Homo sapiens: one gene and its partners. The protein of the gene in region 3 interacts with the protein of the main gene of each other region in a biochemical or structural test. Each region holds a gene or a part of one and is shown on either strand. Other genes may lie near its edges.

Region 1 (7,000 bases), on a different chromosome or scaffold from region 3:
TAGCCTCCCAAGTAGCTGGGACTACAGGCACGTGCAACCGCGCCTGGCTAATTTTTGTATTTTCTGTAAAGACGGGGTTTTGTCATGTCATCCAGGATGGTCTCAAACTCCTGAACTCAAGCAATCCACCCACCTTGGGCTCCTGAAGTGCTGGGATTACAGGCCATGAGTCACTGCACCTGGCCAAGTTCTCCGACCAAGTTCTATTTCTTACATACTAATTACTAGGACCTAGAAAAAAGGTCAGGAATCATCTCATTTAACCTTCAAGGTTCAGTCCTTTCCATTCTCAATGTAAAAATAGTATTCTGGTTTAAAACTGGCTGTGTTCATTTTCTATTCCCACTTAATTTTCTCTCCTTATTCCAAAATTATGTTTGTTCCCACACTTCAATCCTCTTTCCCTCATCCCGCATGAATCCCTGTGGTCTTTTCCTCCTTCCTTCAATCACTCCTCATGATACTAACACTTCCTGAAAACCAACTAAATGCCAGACGCGATGGCTCACGCCTGTAATCCCAGCACTTTGGGAAGCTGAGGCAGATGGATCACCTGAGATGAAGAGTTCGAGACCAGCCTGGCCAATATATAAATACACTAGGTGCAGTGGCTCACGTCTGTAATCCCAGTACTTTGGAAGGCCAAGGTCAGGAGTTCAAGACCAGCCAGGCCAATATGGTGAAACCCTGCCTCAACTAAAAATACAAAAATTAGCCAGGCGTGGTGCCGGGTGCCTGTAATCCCAGCTACTCAGGAGGCTGAGGCAGGGGAACCGCTTGAACCCGGGAGGTGGAGGTTGCAATGAGCCAAGATCACAACACTGCAATCCAGCCTGGGCAACAGAGTGAGACTCCGTCACAAAGAAAAAAAAAATTAGGACTCTGGCTCCCAGCCTTTTTTAAAAACTTAGTATACTTGAACATATAAAGATGAACTTAAAGAGATAATAAAGAAATGTAAATAATTGTATGGGAAAAAAACTTGTGATGTTACACTGAGTTTTAATCTTGCAAATAATGCAAAACATTACAGGAACAATAACTCAAAAGATGTTTGACTTACTGATAAAGGTTTGAACATTCCCCTTTGTAATGTGCAGTCATAACTTCTAAGCTAAAAGCCAAAGGTGAAAAAATATTCCCAAGAAAAGCATTCCAAATAAACAAAAAGTTCACTTATATTTCAAGTAGATACAGAATAAAACTATTCAAGAAGTATCTCTTGGCTGGGTGTGGTGGCTCACGCCTGTAATCCCAACACTTTGGGAGGCTGAGGTGGGCAGATCACTTGAGGTCAGGAGTTTGAGACCAGCCTGGCCAACATGGTGAAACCCCGTCTCTACTAAAAATACAAAAAATTAGCCGGTCGTGGTGGAGGGCACCTGTAATCCCAGCTACTCAGGAGGCTGAGGCAGGAGAATTGCTTGACCCGGGAGGCCAAGGTTGCAGTGAGCTGAGATCGTGCCACTGCACTCCAGCCTGGGTGACAGAGCGAGGCTCCGTCTCAATTTTTTAAAAAAAAAAAGTATCTCTTTTTATTTTTGGGGGACAGTCTTGCCCTTTCACCCAGGCTGGTGTGCAATCACACAATCAGGTCTCACTACAGCCTTGACCTCCCGGGCTCAAGCAATCCTCCGGCCTCAGCCTCCTGAGTAGCAGGGACTACAGGCATGCACTGCCACTCCTGGCAAACTATTTTTTAATTTTTATTAGAGATGGGGTCTCACTATGTTGCCCAGGCTGGTCTCAAATTCCTAGACTCAAGTGATCCTCCTGCCCCAGCCTCCCAAAGTACTGGGATTACAGGCATGAACCACCACACCTGGCCAAAAAAAGTACTTTTCATGGCAGATACTTAGGTAGCAAATTAAGCAAGATACAAAACTAGGTACATAATCTGACTTTATGTTACAAAAATGTATGACCACTAATATTAAAATCCACAGAAAAAAAAAAATCAGGACAGAAATACACCAAAATGTTAAAAGTGGTTATCACAGCTACACACTGGGACACATGCCTGTAATCCCAGAACTTTGGGAGGCCAAGGTGAGCAGGTGGCTTGAGCCCAAGAGTTCGAGACCAGCCTGGGTAACATGGCAAAACCCCATCTCTACAAAAAAATTAGCTAGGTGTGGTGGCACACACCTGTGGTCCGAGCTCCTTGGGAGGCTGAGGTGGGAGGATTGCTTGAGCCCAGGAGGTCAAGGCTGTAGTGAGCCATGACCATGCCCTGGGAGGTAGAGTAAGACCCCACCTCTTTAAAAAAGTGGCAAGGCGCGGTGGCTCACACCTGTAATCCCAGCACCTTGGGAGGCCGAGGTGGGCAGATCACCTGAAGTCAAGAGTTCGAGACCAGCCTGGCCAACATGGTGAAACCCCACCTCTACCCAAAATACAAAAATTAGCTGCGTATAATGGCATGCACCTGTAATCCCAGCTACTTGGGAGGCTGAGGCAGAATTGTTTGAACCCGGGAGGCAGAGGTTGCAGTGACCCAAGATTGTGCCACTGCACTCCAGCCTGGGAAACAGGGCAACACTCTCTCCCCCCAAAAAAATAAATAAATAAAATAAAATAAAATAAAAGGGGTTGTCTCCACTAATAAGATTATGAGTGATTTTTTACTTTTCTATATTTTTCCAAATTTCTCATTTAATTATGTCTTGCTCTTATAATCATAAGTTTTTAATAATAATATTTGACTACAGATGTTGTTCCTCTTTGGCCTTCATACCAACCCTAATCCTCAGTATCAATATGTACTTCAAATACAACTCAGGCACTTCAGATGGCTTTGTAAACTGGGTCAATGCTATTCCATCTGAAAGGAAATTACAGAATTATTTTCAATTCAATTATACATCCCTGCAAAATAATTTGAGGGCAGCTTTGAATGCTGTAAGTGAGTTGTGATGCCATCTATATTAATCCTAAAACTTATCTTCAAATTGATTCCCAAAGTCCAACACACTTTTTATTTAATAAATATTTACAGGCCAGGCACGGTGGCTCAAGCCTGTAATCCCAGCACTTTGGGAGGCCAAGGCAGGCGGATCACAAGATCAGGAGATTGAGAACATCTTGACCAACATGGTGAAACCCCGCCTCTACTAAAAATACAAAAATTAGCCAGGCGTGGTGGTGCACGCCTGTAGTCCCAGCTACTCTAGAGGCTGAGGCAGGAGAATCACTTGAATCCAGGAGGCGGAGGTTGAAGTGAACTGAGATTGTGCCACTAGCACTCCAGCCAGGGCGACAAGAGTGAAACTCCATCTCAAAAATAAATAAATAAACAAACAAACAAACAAACAAACAAATAAATTTACAGACTGCCTACTGTCTGTCAAGCAGTATTCTAGGTGCTAGCAATTCCACAGTGAACAAAATAAACAAAAATCTCTGCCTTCATGGAGTTTACATTCTATTAACAAAATTCAATGTCTTATAAAGTCAGGCAGCACACAGTGGGCTCAAAAAAGTACACAACAGGCCAGGTGTGGTGGCTCATGCCTGTAATCCCAGCACTTTGGGAGGCTGAGATGGGTGGATCACTTGAGGTCAGGAGTTCGAGAACAGCCTGGCCAACATGGTAAAACCCCACCTGTACCCCACATACAAAAATTAGATGGGTGTGATGGCGCGCACCTGTAATCCCAGCTACTCAGGAAGCTAAGGCAGGAGAATCACTTGAACCCAGGAGGTGGAGGATGCAGTGAGCCGAGACTGCGCCACTGCACTCCAGCCTGGGCGACAGAGACTCTGTCTCAAAAAAAAGTACAAAACAATTATTAGTTAATAAAGATCATGGTAGAGCATAGTAGCTAACACCCGTAATCCCAGCACTTGGGGAGGTCAAGGTGGATGGATCATTTGAAGTCAGGAGTTCAAGAGCAGCCTGGCCAACATGGCAAAATCCATCTCTACTAAAAATACAAAAATTAGCTAGGTGTGGTGGTACACACCTGTAATCCCAGCTACTTGGGAGGCTGAGGCATGAGAATCACTTGAACCCAGGAAGCAGAGGTTGCAGTGAGCCAAGATCACACTCCAGCCTGGGTGACAGAGCAAGTCCCTGTCTAAAAAAATAAATTAAAAAAAAAAAAAGTCGTAAAAACCAACAAATTTCAAATGCACTTAAAATAGTTTAACTTTCTCAAATTTCAGCTGAGCTACAGGAGATTGAAAAATTCCTTTGGTTGGCAGCAAGCCAAAGAACTGGAAGCCATTTGAGAATTCAGAAGTCGCTTGGGATCCTGCAATATCTCATCCGTGTAAGTCTCAGCTGCAGTTTATCCATTGCTTAAAGTCATATGCGTGGCTAATAATCAGGAACTAGTTACTTTCCTATTATATTAGCTCAAAGTATTATTCCTTAGGTAAAAATAGATTGTGTCTCACCACAGCACCACGGGAGTTTATTCCAGAACTTACTTTCCCTCATATCTCATAATGAACTAACTGTATCATCACCCAGAACAAGCCAGCAAATGACCATGGCAACCTTATTTTATGGTCTCCCACTATCTCACAACTAACTATACAGTCTTCACCACTGAAGTTAGAGAGGTGCTTCTGTCTCTGTGGCTGAATCTAACATTAACAAGCCAAAAACCAGAAGTAGCTTATATGAGCAAACTGCTGCTTTGCCTCTGCCTCTGCCCCATGTTAGTATCTTCTAATATCAATAAGCCACCACAGAACATGTCACTTACCATCAGACAAAGAAAACATTAACTGGTTTCTGTAAATCCCTCCTCTCCACTTGCAAGAATAACACAAATCTCAAAAGACAATCATAAGCAATTATAATTCAAGAAGGTCACTGAATAAATGAGTCTAGACCCTACATTTCAGAGAAGGGATAACCAATGCCTGAAGCAGTTGCATGGTTAGTCTAAGATAAGATATCTACTACAATGAAAGAGCCAAACTCAAAACCAGATTTTTTGCCTCCAAATCAGGTACACTTCTCAATACACCAAGGTAAATCTACTTCTATTTTAAGACTAGCAAGTACTGTTTCTAAGCCAAAGTCTAGTATTAAAAGGGCAAGGATATTACGAGATGCACTGGGAAGGAGACCAGGAAAAGACCCACCACAGATCAGATCAGGTATGTATCTCCTTCTCATACACTAATTCCTTAGATTATGATACAGAAAATACTTTGAATTTTTAGCTTGTGTTTGACTGTCACTTTCTCTGGTACCTCCTCTAGCAAAAAAAAAAAAAAAAAAAAGCCTGAAACGTGACTGAAATCCATTTATTAAAATTCTATGGAGCAGCAATGGAATTGGAAAAAGCAGGCCGGCAGAAGAGAAAGCTATGTAAACCTGGGTTAATTCTTACTCATTCTTCTAATTTAGCTGAGATGTCAACTTCTTTTAGAAAGCCTTAATTCCTCCTTCCCCAGACTACTCTCACAGCAGAGTTATCAGTTATCACTGTACTTGCCTCATGACGTTTTGTTTACCCACCTCTAACCAAAAGGACCAAGTTCTTTGAGGGCAAAGATTTCTACCTTAGCTCTTCAATCCTACATCTAGCACTGAGTGTAGCAGCACACAGTGGATGCTGAATTAATGAATTCATAAACTTGCCACATCTATTGAAGCCTCAATATAAATGGCAAAATGTGGCAATCCTATTTATTTATTTATTTATTTATTGAGATGGAGTCTCGCTGTCACCCAGGTTGGAGTGCAGTAGAGCGATCTCGGCTCACTGCAATCTCCGCCTCGCGGGTTCACGCCATTCTCCTGCCTCAGCCTACCAAGTAGCTGGGACTACAGGCGCCTGCCACCACGCCTGGCTAATTTTATGTATTTTTAGTAGAGACGGGGTTTCACCGTGTTAGCCAGGATGGTCTCGATCTCCTGATCTCATGATCTGCCCACCTCGGCCTCCCAAAGTGCTGGGATTACAGGAATCCTCTCCATTGACTTAAGATGTGGTTCTCGGCCGGGTGCAGTGGCTCACGCCTGTAATCCCAGCACTTTGGGAGGTAGAAGCAGGCGGATCACAAGGTCAGGAGATCAAGACCATCCTGGCCAACACAGTGAAACCCCGTCTCTACTAAAATACAAAAAATTAGCCAGGCATGGTGGCGCACACCTGTAGTCCCAACTACTCAGGAGGCTGAGGTAGGGGAATCGTTTGAACCCAAGAGGCGGAGGTTGCAGTGAGCCAAGATCATGCCACTATACTCCAGCCTGGCAACAGAGCGAGACTCAATCTCAAAAAAAAAAAAAAAAAAAAAAAAAAAAGACGTGGGTTCCAAACATTTTCTAGAAGACCTTTGATTTTGTTTTTTTTGAGGTGGAGTCTCACTCTGTAACCCAGGCTGGAGCGCAGTGGTGCAGTCTCGGCTCATTGCAACTTCTGCCTCGTGGGTTCAAGCGATTCTCCTGCCTTGGCCTCCTGAGTAGCTGAAATTACAGGCAGGCGCCACCACGCCCGGCTAATTTTTGTACTTTTAGTAGAGACCAGGTTTCACCAGATCAGGGCCAGGTGCGGTGGCTCAATGCCTGTAATCCCAGCACTTTGGGAGGCTGAGGCAGGCGGATCACCTGAAGCCAGGAGTTCGAGACCAGCCTGGTCAACATGGTGAAACCCAGTCTGATCACGCCTTACAAAAAATTACCTGGACCTGGTGGCACACGCCTGTAATCCCAGCTACTCAGGAGGCTGAGGCATGAGAATGGCTGGAATCCAGCCGGCGTAGGTTGCAGTGAGCCGAGATTACACCACTGCACTCCAGCCTGGGCGACAAAGCAAGACTCTGTCTCAAAAATAAATAAATAAAACTGTCTGAACTTATTAATTCAATGCAAACACAACTATACCCACATACTTTGAGGGTCTGGAGATCTATTCAAGCCATGAACAGTGCTAACTCCAGCTATGCACTCCTGCCAAGATGCTTAAATGTTATCCACTTATTGAACAATGACCACTTGCGTCAAATACAAATTCCCATACTCCCTCAGGGTAGAAAA
Region 2 (7,296 bases), on a different chromosome or scaffold from region 3:
AAGGTAGATACACTAAGTACCAACCTCATATAAAGTGCTTAATGCACAGTTTGGGGGTTCATTAAAGAGGTAAGCATGGAACAACAATATGACCCAGAAATTCCACTCTTAGATATATAACCAAAAGATGTAAAAACAAGGCCCAAACAGATACTTGTACAACAATGTCCACAGCAACACTATTCACAATAGACAAAATGTAGAAACAATCCAAGTATCCATCAACAGATGAATAGATAAACAAAATGTGGTCTACACATATAATGGAATATTACTCAGCGTTAGAAAGAAATGAAATTCTGATACATGCTACAACATAGATAGACCTCAATGACATTATGCTAAGTGAAATAAGCCAGTCACAAAAGGTCAAACACTGTATGATTCTGAGGCAGGAGAATAGGGTCTGGAGGCAGGGAACCTAAGGCCGATTCCCTCTGACTTCCTAGAACTAAATCGAAAGGAAAACCGCAACTCTCCATGCCTCAGTAACAAAAGGAAGAGAGGCTACTCTCTTTGCAAATCACCCCATTTCCTGCAGGGCAGATGGAAAATTGAAAGTACGTCTGGTTGGTTGCTTTCTGCAACCAATGGGGTGAACACCAAGTGGCCAATGGGAAACCTCTAGGGGGTATTTGGAACCCAGAAGATTCTGTAACTGGGGTCCTTGAGCCCTGCTCTAGCCGCTCCCACCCTGTGGGGTGTACTTTCATTTTCAATAAATCTCTGCTTTCATTGCTTCACTCTTTCCTTGCTTTGCTGTACATTTTGTCCAATTCTTTGTTCAAAATGCCAAGAACCTGAACAATTTGCAGTCAAGATCCTCTACTGGTAACAATTCCACTTACATGAAATATCTAGAATAAGTAAGTTCATAGGGACAGAAGGTAGATTAGAAGTTACCAAGGGCTAGGGGAAGGAGAAAATGAGGAGCTATTGCATTACTGGGGCTCAGGACACACCACTTCAAAGTATGACTGCAGGAGGCTCTTGAAATATACTTCTTTGGCATATTTTAAGCTGGTTATTCTGAGAAACTGCTGATACAGGAATAGCTCTGAAAAGCTCTCCTTTTGTAAAAAAGAAAGGCATTTATATCTTAAAAGAAAATCTACATTAGTAAAATGATCTATATTAAAAGAGGGCTGCTCCAGACAACTTTTATTATCTAAGAACTTTTAATCTACATAGCAAGACAACCTCTATTCACCAAACAGCTCCTCTCCTCACCCTCCCATAACTTGTGTTATCACCATCACCCAGAAGCTCCAAGCTCTTTTCCGTAGCTCAGGATGTTATACAGGCTTCAATCATCTGACCTTTCTTTGAGTCTCATATATTGTGGGACTCCTGAGTATACATATGTAATTAAATATGGGTTTTCCGCTGGTAATCTATTTTATGACTATTTAATTCATAGGCTATTTAATTCATAGCCCAGCCAAGGAAACTAGAAGGGTGGAGGCAAGCCATCTTTCCCTCCCCTATGGTTTAAAGAGTACAGAGTTTCTGGAGTAATGAAAAAGTTCTGGAAATAGATGGTGGTGATGGTTACACAATATTGTGAATCTACTTAATGCCACTGAATGGTACACTTATAAATGGTTAACATAGGAACTTATCCATTAGGTATATTTTACCACATTTTGTAAAATACAAAAACAGGCCGGGCATGGTGGCTCATGCCTGTAATCCCAGCACTTTGGGAGGCCGAGGTGGGTGGATCACGAGGTCAGGAGTTAGAGACCAATCTGGCCAACATAGTGAAACCCCATCTCTACTAAAAATATAAAAAATAGCCAGGTATGGTGGCGTGGCCTGTAATCCCAGCTACTCGGGAGGCTGAGGCAGGAGAATGGCGTGAACCCGGAAGGAGGAGGTTGCAGTGAGCCGAGATCGCACCATTGCACTCCAGCCTGGGCGACAGTGTGAGACTCCGTCTCAAAAACAAACAGATAAACAAACAAACAAAAAACAAAGCAAAACAAACAAACAACAACAAAAAAAAACCAAAGTGCTTAATACAGTACCTGGCACATTTGAAGTGCTCATAAATGTTACCTAGTATTGTTAAGTAATGTTATTCTTAGTTGTAATAATGTTTATAAAAGTTACTGTAATACGGTGTCCTCTGTACTTTCATGAAGGGGAGTAAAAGGGCCTGAAAGGCAGCAGAGCAAGAAACCCAAGTAGTTCCTTTGTCGGGGGAGGTGGGAGGTGGGCAGGAAAGGTGTGGCAAGAGAAGGGTTCGTTGGGGAGGCTTCCTTAAGCAGAAACCACATGAGCTGGGAGGCCTTGGCAAAGATACCTCTTCAGTCTGAGCCAGTTTCTCACCTCGGATCTGGGAAGTTGGTTTTAGTTTTGCCGTGCCTGGGACATGCCCCTGGCTCCAGGCCAGCGCAACAGGGGTACTACCTCCATCCTCCCTAATCTGAAGTCCTGCATCTGAGGCAAAGTTGAGGCAGGGCTCGAGGGTGGGCGGAAGGGCCCAGGCCCGGAGGCCACTGACCCTTCTCACCTTGCCCAACTGCTCAGTGGAGAAACCGCAGCCCAGCGAGGCCGCCCCAACTCCTCCGTGTCCTCTTTTCTACTCTATCCTACCCTCCCTTCCCTGCCCCACCCGAGACGGTCAGGACCCTGGTGTCTGGACTTCCCGCTTTGTGTCACTCTCTAGGGTACTTGACCAAATCCTCCGTTAGACCCTCTCTTCCCGCCTCTCCCCACCACAGCAAACCAACAAAGCTTAACCCCATCATCCCCTAACCCAATAGTACCTCTGTAGGGCTGGGGCTGGGGCTGGGCTGGCGGCCTTCAGAGGGGGTCTCGGGGGGAGGCATGGTGGGCTCCTGGGGCCGGGCGGGGTCCTGCTGGGGCCTCGGAGATCGGGCGGGTGCAGGCTCCATGGACCCCAGCTTAGTTTCGATTCTCGGTTTAGATCTTGGAGTGCGTGAAGAGAAGCTGAAGGGGAGGCGTGAGCCAGTTGGCTGAGTCCCTTGAGCTGTCCGAAAGGGGAGGTGCCGGCTCAGGGCCCGCCTCTGGAGAGGAAGTGAGACAGAAGCTGGGGGCGGTTCTAGGGGGCAGAGAGGCCGACTGTGGGTTTTAAAGACACGCCCAGAGCGGGGAGGAGGTAGAGGCGGAGAGCTGCAGACCTACCGCTGACTTACGGTAAAGCGGGAGAGGTAGGGCAGAGCTGCAGGGGGGCAGCCCTGCTCCCGGCTTTGATCCATTCATCCGTTCACACTGGCACTGCTTCGTGCCACGTCCTGCCGGGAGCTGGGCGTACAAAGATGAGCCACACGCAGCCCCTGCTTTCTAAGAGCCGTAGATGTAATGGAAGAGCAAGCCTGCAAACGGAGACATTCTGGAAAGGAGAGCCCACAGCTGGGACCTGCAAAAGCAGTGGAAATTCACCAGGGATTTAGGGTTGTAGGTGGTGGGGTACGGGGGACACTTGAAACAGAAAAGATAGCTCTTGCAAAAGCCTGTTTGGGAACTAATTTTGGCCATTTTCAGATTTAAGAGGGAATTCATGAGAAATGATACCCAAGGAGTGTGCTAGGACAAGATCCTAGCTGAGGAGATTGAACCAGTTCTGTGAGTGATGGGAAGTTGCTGAAGGATTTGGAACCAGGGAACAACACGATCAGCTGTGCATGATGGGACAGTCACTCTGACAACCTAGGAGCAGGTGCCCTGGTCTAGGACAGTGGCTGTGGGATGCAGAGGAGGGACTTGATTCAGAGATCCTGGGAAGCCAGTGACTGGAGGTGAGGGAGCAGGATGATGCCTTGAGTGACAGCTGGAAAGGCTGGTGGATCTGAGGTGGTGGGGGCAGGAGGGAGGGGGAGAGCTGGAGAGCGGGTATGAAGAGGGTGAGGGGAGAGCCAGCTAGGTCTTCGCCAATGGAAAAGCATGTCAGACTCCCAGCTGGTAAGGGGAAAGGGGCACAGTTCCAGGTGACCTCACTGGGTCAGCGCCCCGGCTTCAAACTTAAACCATCGCAACCACTGTGCTGGCTCCTGTGTACCCATTCCGTACTCTGTTCCAACTTAGAAACAGACTAGAAAGGATGATGATAGGGCCTGGCTCTTGTAAACCTTACAGTCTGCAGGGTGGAGAGCAGGGGTTGGGCAGATACGCAACTTCCTAGGGACTGTAAGGCCTCAGGAGCCTGCCCTTCCCTCCAGCCTGGTCAGTACTCCCAGGCCTTTAGAGAATCAGTCCATGAAAGCCAAATATGGTGGGCAGCCATCTGCACAAGGGACCTGGAAGTGGGCTATGGCAGGATGGGGCTTCGGAGGCCAGAGGCGATTGGCTGAGGAGGCAGAGCTGGGGAAGCTTTATTCATTTCTTTGCTTGCTTTGGAAGATAGCCTGCTCCCAGACTACCCCAAAGTCCTGTTGGAAGTTAACACTTCTCAAAGGAAATTCACGAGTTGCATTCAGGTTTTCTCAAGCCCTGGAGAGGCAAGTTAATTCCAGGTACCTGGATCAAGGGGCATGCTCTTTCTGGACCTGCAGGACTGAGGGCCTCACCTCTGTGGTGCTCTGGGGCCCCTGCCCTCATGTAGCTCTGTGCTATCCCCTTCTTCCTTACACTCCCATGCTCCCCGAAGTCTGCATGTGAAACTTCTTTCTTTTTGTGCCAAAGTTCAGGCCTTCCTACTCCACCTTGATCACGGTGACCTGGCCAGGCCATTACTTAACAAATAAGTATTGAGACCTGCCCTATGCCAGTCCCTGCTTGCTGGGCTGTGGGTTCACAAAGAGGAATAATTTGCAGACTATGTCCCAGAGAAACCCAAAGTCCAGATATGGCATGTCCTGCCTCCAGTGTGAGAGAAGGAGTGCTGAGAAGGCTGATATAGCATGTCCTTGATCCTGGAGAAGATTGGCTTCCTGTAAACCCTGATGAGATCTTGCTCTCTCGCTCCGACTGCAGTGCAGTGGCACGATCATAGCTCACTGCAGCCTCAAACTCCTGGACTCAAGAGATCCTCCCGCCTCAGCCTCCCAAGTGGCTGGGACCACAGGCAGGCATCCCACGCCAGGCTAATTTTTAAAAATTTTTTGTAGAGATGGGCTCTCACTATGTTGCTCAGGATGGTCCTGAATTCCTGGCCTCAAGCGATCCTCCTGCCTGAGTCTCCCAAATTGATGGATTATAGGAGTGAGCCACCGTGCCCAGCTTCCCCTCCAGCTTTTCTAGGGCTGAGTAGGAGAAGAGGGGAGGAGGCGATGACCCCAGCGGGGTCCGAGGAACGCCGATCACACCCAGTAGCCCTGGGCTGCAGTTCGGTCCTCCCAGCGCAGGGGGAGCCATGCGACGGCGGAAGCGGGCCCCGGCCGGCCTCCTCTTCCTGCGCCCGCGCCGCCGCGGGTGGCCGCGCGGGTGAAGCCGGAAGCAGCAGCCAGGAGGGCGGGGCCGCGTAGGGCCCACTGGCCAGGGAGGGCGCCGCGCGGAGGCGCGGGGCGTGTCTCCTGTCAAAAGCCATGCTCGGCAGGTCTGGGTACCGGGCGCTGCCCCTGGGTGATTTTGACCGCTTCCAGCAGTCGAGCTTCGGCTTTCTGGGCTCGCAGAAGGGCTGCTTGTCCCCGGAGCGGGGCGGCGTGGGGACAGGGGCCGGTGAGTGGCCGCCTGGCACGGCGGAGCCGGGGGGGACCGGCCGGCAACCCCCAGGCCCGAATCTCTGCCTCCGAGGAGTCGGCCGGCCCGGTGCCGTCGCACCCTACGAGGGGGGACTGAGAAAGGGATACGATGTGGAGAGGGGGCTGGACCCGGCGCCTGGTGCTAGCGCCGATCCGCCCTCCCTAGGGTCATGGGGCTTTGGCCCCAGAGCCAGCCAGCGTTGCTCCTATCTTCCAAAACCTCACCTCACCACATTTGTCCTCGGCTCTTATCAGCCCTTTAGGCCTGGGAAGACGTTTCAGGTTTCTATTTCGCATAGAAGAAACCGAGGTCTAGGCAGAGGAGGCCACCAGCACCCTAAAGGCACCTGCTGCAGGGAAATGGAAGAATTTTCGCCCTAGGGGGCACCTCTAGAAGCCCGGGAACTAGGCATCTCCTGGATGTGCAGGCCAAAATGACAGGTCCTCAGCTGCCTGTTGGATCTGCCCTGCTTCTGTCTTGCCCTCAAAGTCTTCTGTGGCTCCTTTGGCCTACAGGCCAGATCCCACGCTGTTCAGCCTAACCGCCTAACCTTGGATTTGATCCCTCCCTGGCCTTCCTGTCCTGAAAGCTCTCCCTATCCAGAAGTCTCTTGAGAGGCCTGGTGGATCAGAGCCAGGCACAAAGTGGAGCCTCAGTGCTCTGGGGCTTAGCCCAGAGGGCAGGGCTTCCTGGAAGAATGGAGCAGGGCTCCCGACTGCTTCCTGTCCAGGGTTGGGAGGAAAGCGGCAAATAACCTCATCCCAGATTCTGGAGCTGTCTCGGCTTTGCTCCCAACTTGGGCTCCTGAATCTCCAGGGGCCAGGACATTTGGCTTGGATAAGCCTCATCTTTCTAGCCCTGCCCCTGACCCCGACCCCTAACAATTTTCTTGAATTGAAATAGGCAGGGTTTTTTTTTGTTTTTGTTTTTTGTTGTTTGTTGTTTTTTTGAGATGGAGTCTCGCTCTGTCCCCCAGGCTGGAGTGCAGTGGCGCCATCTCGTGAAATAGGCATTTTTTAATGGTCATTAAGGCATTAAAGTTGGGTGTGGAATAGAAAATAATAATCTAATTCCTCATCTGTGGCTCCCGTTGATAAGCTATTTATGATTTATCCCTGTAGGCTAAGGCATCATCTTCATAAGGACTCCTGGAAAGCACACTTCTGGGGCTGATGGTATAGGAGGAATGTGTTTTGCCAGCAGTATTCAGTGCATGTTTACAGATGCCCAGGTGCTCCTGGCTCCATGCCAGGTATGGGTAGGCAATATAAATTAAACGAGAGGATTGACCCCTACTCAGTCCAGTGAGGAGAGCATCATCACGCGGACTGGATTCTGAGATTGAATGGCTGTTGCCTAGCAGAGAATAAGGCCTTGTGAGGGTTGTTGGACTTGGGACAAATGAGTGTTGATGTATGGGAGGAGGGAACAGACCCTAACTTGCAGCTGCCCAAAGATACGGGAATATTAGGCAAGGAGCCAGATTGAGAGCCCTGAGAAGGAAGGAGCCTCTCGAGGGGAAGGTGGGCGTAAGGTACACTTGCCCAAGTTCACTCCGCTTGGCAGCTGTCGTGCAGGTCCAGTTGACCACCTCTGCTCTCACCTGCAGATGTACCCCAGAGCTGGCCCTCCTGCCTCTGTCATGGC
Region 3 (7,816 bases):
TTTTCATTCATCTGTTGATGGACAGGTGGGTTGCTTCTACCTTTTGACTTTTGTGAATAATGTTGCTTTTAACATGGGTATGCAGCTACCATTTTTTGACACTGATTTTTTATTTTTAGATGGGCACTCTGGTTTTTTAAAAATGATAAAAGCAAAACTTGGCAAGCAAACCTGCGGCTGATCTCCAAGTTTGATACTGTTGAAGACTTTTGGGCGTAAGTAACCATTTGTTTTAGTATGTTTGTTGTTTTATTCGTTGTGTAGTTTTTTTATTTTTAAGTCGAATTCACAAAATGAAGTGTGAGTTAAACAGTTAATGAATGTTCATCTATTTTTTTATCTCCTCACAAAAGTTTGAATTGGTGATTATGCTTTATTAGTTTTACAGAGCTTCAATCTTGTCATCCCCCAGCCCCAATTATTGTTTCTTGTCCTGAGATATCCTTAGCTCAAGAATCCATTATTGCCCTTAGAACTTTTGACAGCTAGTTGGAACTTGTTCCACTCCTGGTTGCCAAGATACATTTGCCTCATAACTGGGTATTGCAGTGCGTTGTTGGGTCCTCATTTCTGCAAACTGTTTTCAGTGCAATATCTGGAATTTCCTGTACCAGAGATTTTAAGATATCAAAGGCTGAAGTGTTCAGAATTCACGGTTTGTCAAGGCAATGCCAGTATCTATCATGATACTTTATTCATTTCATTATACTTTGATCAACCTCAAGAAGAATAGTTGAAATATTTTTGAAATTTTGTTTCTGTATAGCAGAAAGTTAAGAATTGGGATCATCAACTTTTGCATGACCTTAAAACAAAATTTAAGGCTGGGCTCAGTGACTCATGCCTGTAATACTAATACTTTGGGATGCTGAGGCAGGAAGATCACTTGCAGCCAGGAGTTCAAGACCAACCTGGTCAACATGAGTCCCTGTTTCTCTATAAAATAAATAAAAATTGTAAAGTCTATTTCAAGAAGTTTTGATAATTGATTCTCTTAAAAACAAAGTTAATCCAGTGTGTCTAATTTACTTGGAGAATGACTAGGGAGGTACTATTTGAGACCATGAAAGGCAAAACTCTTTAATAAGCACTTTAAATTACCTAGCAGTTATCTAAATATTCTAACTTGTACATCTTTTTTTAGGATCATATACATGCTGAATTAGTGATGCTACTCTTATGTTTTAATGTAACCCCCTCAAGATATTCTGCTCATACAAAGAAATAGATTGTGGTATAAAATTTATACATATGTATGTACATCTTCAACAGCAGAAACAATATTTTTCTGTATATTTCCAGTGCTTGGCTTCTAATAGATATTTTGTATTCATTTGTGTTGCTGAAAAAAGCAAAGCATACGATTAAAACCATAAACTTTGAGAGTATTTGAGAACATTCATTTGAGAGTAAACTTTGAGAGTATTTATTTTTTATTAAAAGCATTGACACTTAATAATAACTACATTTAAGGCCTAATAATTTATAGGTCTAGTTTTCTAGTTAAACTAGGATTATTATTCTTTGCCCATCATCAAAACATCAAGTAGTTTTTCTTCTCTAGTTTTGTTTATTCAGGACTCTTAAATAACTCCAGTCTTCTGCACCCCCCAAAAAAAAGCTTTTCATTCTCCTACAGAGAAAAAGGAAGCCTTGAGCCACCTTCCCCAATCAGATTTGCATTTATCTAGTTTGTTTGGCTTTTACCAGTTTACATAATTCTACCTTCTAATTAGAACAGTTCTCCATGCTTCAGTTACATGTAGTCAATGTCATTACATAGTAGGTTTTTATACCATAACTTAGAGATATGAAGGATTTTTCAGTTTTCTATAAATGTGTGGGCCACTTCCTAATTTCTGTTTTTTTCTAGCAAATTTATTGCAGATAACCATTGAGTCCTTTTGTATTTATCCAGACTGCATAGTCTTAGGATTCTGTTTAGATGTGCCATTATAAATTCTCATGATGGACTTACTTGAGAGACCTTTGAGCACCACAGAAGAGAAAGGAGGCAGCAAAAGGGAAAAAGTATTTTATTGAAGGTCATTCCCACAATATCCATTCATTTTATGACATTAGTAGCGCTAATTTTATAGTCACTTAGTATCCCGTCTTTTTTTGTTGCCTAGTGGAGGCTGTCATTGATGATGTAGTTGGGAGTTACCATTAGGTAGTGACTCAGCAAACCTTATGTGGTCTTAGGTTGTCTCACCTAAACTATATTTGTGTGTTATACTATGGAATTTGATTTAAAGATGCCAACTTCTTTCTTAAATCTTTTTTTTTTTTTTGAGATGGAGTCTAGCTCTGTCACCAGGCTGAAGTGCAATGGGGTGATCTCGGCTCACTGCAACCTCCGCCTCCTGGGTTCAAGCGATTTTCCTGCCTCAGCCTCCCTAGTAGCTGGGATTACAGGCGCATGCCACCACGCCCGGCTAATTTTTGTATTTTTAGTAGAGACAGGGTTTCATCATGTTGGTCAGGCTGGTCTCGAACTCCTGACCTCATGATCCACCTGCCTCGGCCTCCCAAAGTGCTGGGATTACAGGCGTGAGCCACTGCACCCGGCCCTTAAATCTTTACCTGAAATATTCCTAGATGGGGTTAACATAGCACCAGGAGAACCAGACTAAGGATAGTAGAATCATCCATGGTCTGTAGACACAGCTAAGATCATTATTTCTGCCATCTAATATTGGAGACAAGCAAAAGATTCTTAAGAGTTGCCAATTTTTAAATCAATTTTGCTGTAAAAGACTACAGGAGATCAAATGATCTAAGCCTCCTACCTTCAGGCAAGCAACTAAGTCATCGCAAATGTTATTCTGTTATTTTGATACTTGGGAAATAGTTTAGAAATACAGACTGCAGGGTTCCATCTTATATTTAGGTGATTATAATCCCAAGATGTAGGGCTTGTAACTATATTTATTTATTTATTTTTCTAAAATCAGTTTTAAAATGATTATTATGTTGACTAACCAGTGACAGTTTGTGGTGTTTGGGAACCGTTGATCTATTCTACTCTTGGATACCTTCAAGGATAATGACTGTTTCAGTCATGCAATCCTGATGGTCAGGAAGTTCATCGTTTCTGGTTTTTGTTTTTGTTTTTGTTTTTGTTTTTTTATGTTTGTGAAAAAAACTGTGTATTAACTTCAGAAATTATTTCATCTACTTAAAGCCACCTTATACCTCTCTTCTCAGTTTCTTATATATATACATATGTATGCACTGAGTTAACTAACATAAAATATATTTTTGTCAGAGCAGTCACTAGAAGTTTTTTTGAAAATTATACCTGTCATCTGAAGTTGATTATTTAACTGCTTTTAAGATCTGTTTTGTCCATTTTAGAAATTGACTCCTTAGAAACAAGTAAACATGAACTTTTATCTGTTTATTTTCATCATATGTTCTAAATGTATATATATGTAAGCACCTAAACTCTATATTACATATTCTGTGTTTTTAATTGTTATTTTCTTTTACCTAGTCTGTACAACCATATCCAGTTGTCTAGTAATTTAATGCCTGGCTGTGACTACTCACTTTTTAAGGTATGCTTAATTGGTGATTTTATATATTTATTATAGGACTGGGCCATTTGGTATTCATTAAGAAATCTTACCATAAACTTAGGAATATTTGATAGTGTGATGAATAGGCTGATAATTTAATTGGCTGTAGTATGCTTTAGTATCAATATATCTTATTCTATTTGTTTATAAAAATTGAGAGAGAGTTACTCTGTGGGCACATACTGAGATTGATTTTGATGAGAGCTTTGATTATCCAGTCTACTCCTTCCTTTATATATTTGAGCAGACTGAGTTTATCAAGCATTCTTAACCTTAGGAGCATGGGTCCTTGGAATACTTATTATTGGGCTTTGTCAGTTGGTAGAGGGACGGGACATTCATTAACTGAAATTGCATAGTTTTTGCATGTATTTTCTAGCTGTAGAAATGTACAGAGCTTCTAAAATATGTTTGCTTCTCAGAAAGTTTAAGAACCTTCAAATTAAGTGAAACCCAAGATTTGATAGCTAATAAGTGACAAAGCCAGGACTCTAATTCTGCAATGTCATGCCTCTGGCTTTAAGTCTTATGTGCTGTTTAAAAACTACATCAATGGCAGTTTTATGGGCAATAAAGTAAGAAGTTGACAGTGTTGTTGCTTAACTGTTTCTAATGATTATCTCTCAAAGTCAAGGTAACAATGTTGTGTAATACTGTTGTCTTCTAACCCTGTAGGATGGTATTGAGCCTATGTGGGAAGATGAGAAAAACAAACGGGGAGGACGATGGCTAATTACATTGAACAAACAGCAGAGACGAAGTGACCTCGATCGCTTTTGGCTAGAGACAGTAAGGTTTTAAAAGTATAAAGCAGTTTTAGAGGTAGTTTTGGAATACTGATACTTAAGATATGTTATGTTTTACATTTGTTACTTAATTTAAGAGAAGGATGCCCAACACTAGAAAATCAGGGTCAGTAATTATTTTTGTTCTGTCATATGACTCCTGTTTATAGTACAGTGAAACATCCTACCACATTATAAGTCAGATATTTTAAGTGATTGGCAGTTGACTCTCACCACAGTAAGCTCACTGTGGTCATTTCATTAACCTCAAAATTATAGAACCTTACATTTTGTATGATTGAAGTTTTTGCAACCCTCTTACAGCATTGCTATATGTATACTAAACTTTTAAATACTTATATTTTTAGAGCGAGGGTCTTGCTCTGTTGCCCAGGCTGGAGTGCGGATATTTATTTATATGGCTCATTTCAGCCTCACCCTCTGGGTTCAAGTGATCCTCCCACTTCAGCCTCTTAAGTAGCTGGGACTACAGGTGCATGCCACCATGCCCAGCTAATTTTCTAATTTTTTTCCAGAGATGGGATCTTGCTATGTTGCCCAGGTTGGTCTCAAACTTCTGGCCTCAAGTGATCCTCCCACTTCAGCCTCCCAAAGTGCTGGAATTACAGGTGTGAGTCACTGTGCCTGTCCCACTAAACTTTTTAGATTAGTGAAGCAAATAATAAAATTGTTGTGTACTACCATTTGACCTACATGTTGTGATATTAACTGGAACTTCTGGCTTTACAAGACAAATTAAATATGAGATAATAAGCATTTTCTGTAGACAGAGGTTCCAAACCCCAAGCTTATAGGAGCGGGGTTTGTAGTCTCTTTTGTATCCCTAGCACTTGAAACCGTGCCTGGTTTATAGTTAGCACTTGTTAAGTTAATCACTTTAAATGTTTGAATAAGTGACTATTTTGCTTTTTTTTAGAGACAGGGTCTTGTTCTGTCGCCCAGGCTAGAGTGCAGTGGGGCCATCATAGCTCACTGTAGCCTCCTGGGTTCAAGCAATCATCCTGCCTTAGCCTCTCAAGTAGCTGGGACTACAGGTGCATGCCAGCACAGCCAGCTAATGAATGAATGACTTTTTAAGAAGAAAATTCTGTTTTTGAGGGGGAAGATCATGAGCAAATACCATTTTTGAATTCCACATTAAAAAGTCAGGACATTTCCATTTTGCAGTTAAAAAAAATCTTCTGGAGATGGATGGTAGTAGGGATGGTTGTACAACAATGTTGAATGTACTTAACACCACTGAACTGTACACTTAAAGGTGGTTAAAATGGTAAATTTTATGTTATTTGTATTTTACCACAATTAAGAAATCTGTTAGGGCTGGGCTCACACCTGTGATCTCAACACTTCAGGAGGCTGAGGCAGGCATTTCACTTAAACTCAGGAGTTCAAGACCAGTTTGGGCAACATGGCAAAACCCTGTCTCTACAAAAAATACAAAAATTAACTGGGTATGGTGACATGTCCCTGTATGTATGCCCACCTACTCAGGAGGCTGAGGTGGAAGGATCATTTGAGCCCAGGAGGTTGAGGCTGCAGTGAGCTGTGATGATCCCACTGCACTCCAGCCAGGGTGACAGAGCAAGACCCTGTCTCAAACAACAACAACAACAAAAAACCAGACCATTAACAAATATTCATAAAAAATAAGAACAAGAGGAGATTAACCATGAATAGCTATTTTTATTATTCTATTAATATTTGTTTGCTCATAAATATAAGCAGCAGCAGAGCAAATGAATATTAATAAAATCAGCTTTTATGTCTGCCATGACATTAACTGCCAAATTTGCTGAAAAAGGCTGATTTGATAGTAAATAAATGAATGAGTATTTAAAAGTCAGGACAGATCAATATATGCAAATAAAATTTACACATTTAAAAAATTAACTCTTGATTTAAAAACTGCCTTTAGTTTCTATGCAAATACAGAAGAGACATTTGCAGTGTAATGAGCTTGTTTATAATCTATTAAATGTAATTTGGGATTTTTTTTTAAGCTTCTGTGCCTTATTGGAGAATCTTTTGATGACTACAGTGATGATGTATGTGGCGCTGTTGTTAATGTTAGAGCTAAAGGTGATAAGATAGCAATATGGACTACTGAATGTGAAAACAGAGAAGCTGTTACACATATAGGGTAAGTTTTGCTCTTTGCCTACTTATTTTACAGTATTAAGATGAGTAAAACCAGAAGTTATTTTATTTGTAGCTTTAGAAATACTTCAGTTTGTAGATCCTGTTTTCCTTGTATTGTTTTCGTGAACACTTTTATAATTTTGAACGGCTCAATTGGTGCGCAACGTCTTGTTTTTTTGGGTTTTTTCACAGCTATTTATTTATTTATTTATTTAGAGATAGAGTCTCACTCTGTTGTCCAGGCTATATATAGTACAGTGGCATGATCTAGGCTCACTGCAACCTCCGCCTCCCGGGTTCAGGAGATTGTTATGTCTCAGCCTCCCGAGTAGCTGGGAATACAGGCGCATGCCACCATGCTTGGGTAATTTTTATATTTTTAGTAGAGACCAGGTTTTGCCACGTTGGCCAGGCTGGTCTTTTAACTTTTGGTCTCAAGTGATCCGTCCACCTCAGCCTCCCAAAGTGCTATCATTACAGGCATGAGCCACTGCGCCTGGCCTTTTTCATATGTTTTTTATTTCTGTAAAATTGCTTTTTCTTAGCAGTGAAGTATATAACCACTAGAGCACTCTCCTTTGGCATGTAGCATTTTTTATTCATTCACAAATGAGAATGTATTATTTCCTACTTTGAAAGTGCTGTTTGGAAAAAAGTACTACTTTGAAAAGAGCTAATGTATGCTCATAATAATAATTCAGTGATTATTGGCAAATAGTATATGTGCATTTAAAGCATGTGTGTTTACTACGTATAATTTTCATTAAAATTTATATAACATATCTTGGTTTTTGTTCCATGTTTAAAACCCACATATGTAGGGTTTTATTAAACCTTTTTTTGTAAATTTTATTCTTTGCAAAAGTGGCTTTTTTTTTTTTTTTGAGACAGGGTCTCACTGTGTTATTCAGGCAAGAGTGCAGTGGTGCAGTCATGGCTCACTTCAGCCTCAACCTCCTGGGCTCAGGTGATACTCCTACCTCAGCCACCCAATTAGCTGCAACTACAGGTGTGTATGACCACACCTGGCTATTTTCTTGTATTTTTTGTAGAGAAGAGGTTTTGCCATGTTGCCCAGACTGGTCATGAACTCCTGGACTTGATCAAGCCACCTCAGCCTTTCAAAGTGCTGAGATTACAGGCGTGAGCCACCATGCTAAACCAGCTGACATTTTTTTTCTAAGATTTCTTTTTACCTCAATTATATTAGTAATATTTGACACCAGGCGCAGTGGCTCACACCTGTAATCGCAGCACTTTGGGAGGCTGAGGCAGGTGGATCACAAG

The links.
Region 1: the proteins of EIF4E (region 3) and EIF4G3 form a complex in vitro, tested with the Homo sapiens proteins (3 studies listed by BioGRID and IntAct, with this or other methods).
Region 2: the proteins of EIF4E (region 3) and PML form a complex in vitro, tested with the Homo sapiens proteins (4 studies listed by BioGRID and IntAct).

The regions. Positions count from the first base shown.
Region 1 is NC_000001.11:21,166,898-21,173,897, forward strand, and holds part of EIF4G3 (eukaryotic translation initiation factor 4 gamma 3), read right to left. Parts: intron 1,143-7,000; exon of another isoform or gene 1,064-1,142; intron 1-1,063. UniProt on the Homo sapiens protein: Component of the protein complex eIF4F, which is involved in the recognition of the mRNA cap, ATP-dependent unwinding of 5'-terminal secondary structure and recruitment of mRNA to the ribosome. Functional homolog of EIF4G1.
Region 2 is NC_000015.10:73,990,420-73,997,715, reverse strand, and holds the start of PML (protein PML), read right to left. Parts: upstream 3,001-7,296; 5' UTR 2,904-3,000; coding exon 2,775-2,903; intron 1-2,774. Other genes in the region: STOML1 (stomatin-like protein 1), read left to right, coding at 5,493-5,625, 7,259-7,296.
Region 3 is NC_000004.12:98,883,636-98,891,451, reverse strand, and holds part of EIF4E (eukaryotic translation initiation factor 4E), read left to right. Parts: intron 1-119; coding exon 120-215; intron 216-3,499; coding exon 3,500-3,563; intron 3,564-4,259; coding exon 4,260-4,373; intron 4,374-4,905; coding exon of another isoform or gene 4,906-4,998; intron 4,999-6,390; coding exon 6,391-6,530; intron 6,531-7,816. UniProt on the Homo sapiens protein: Acts in the cytoplasm to initiate and regulate protein synthesis and is required in the nucleus for export of a subset of mRNAs from the nucleus to the cytoplasm which promotes processes such as RNA capping, processing and splicing.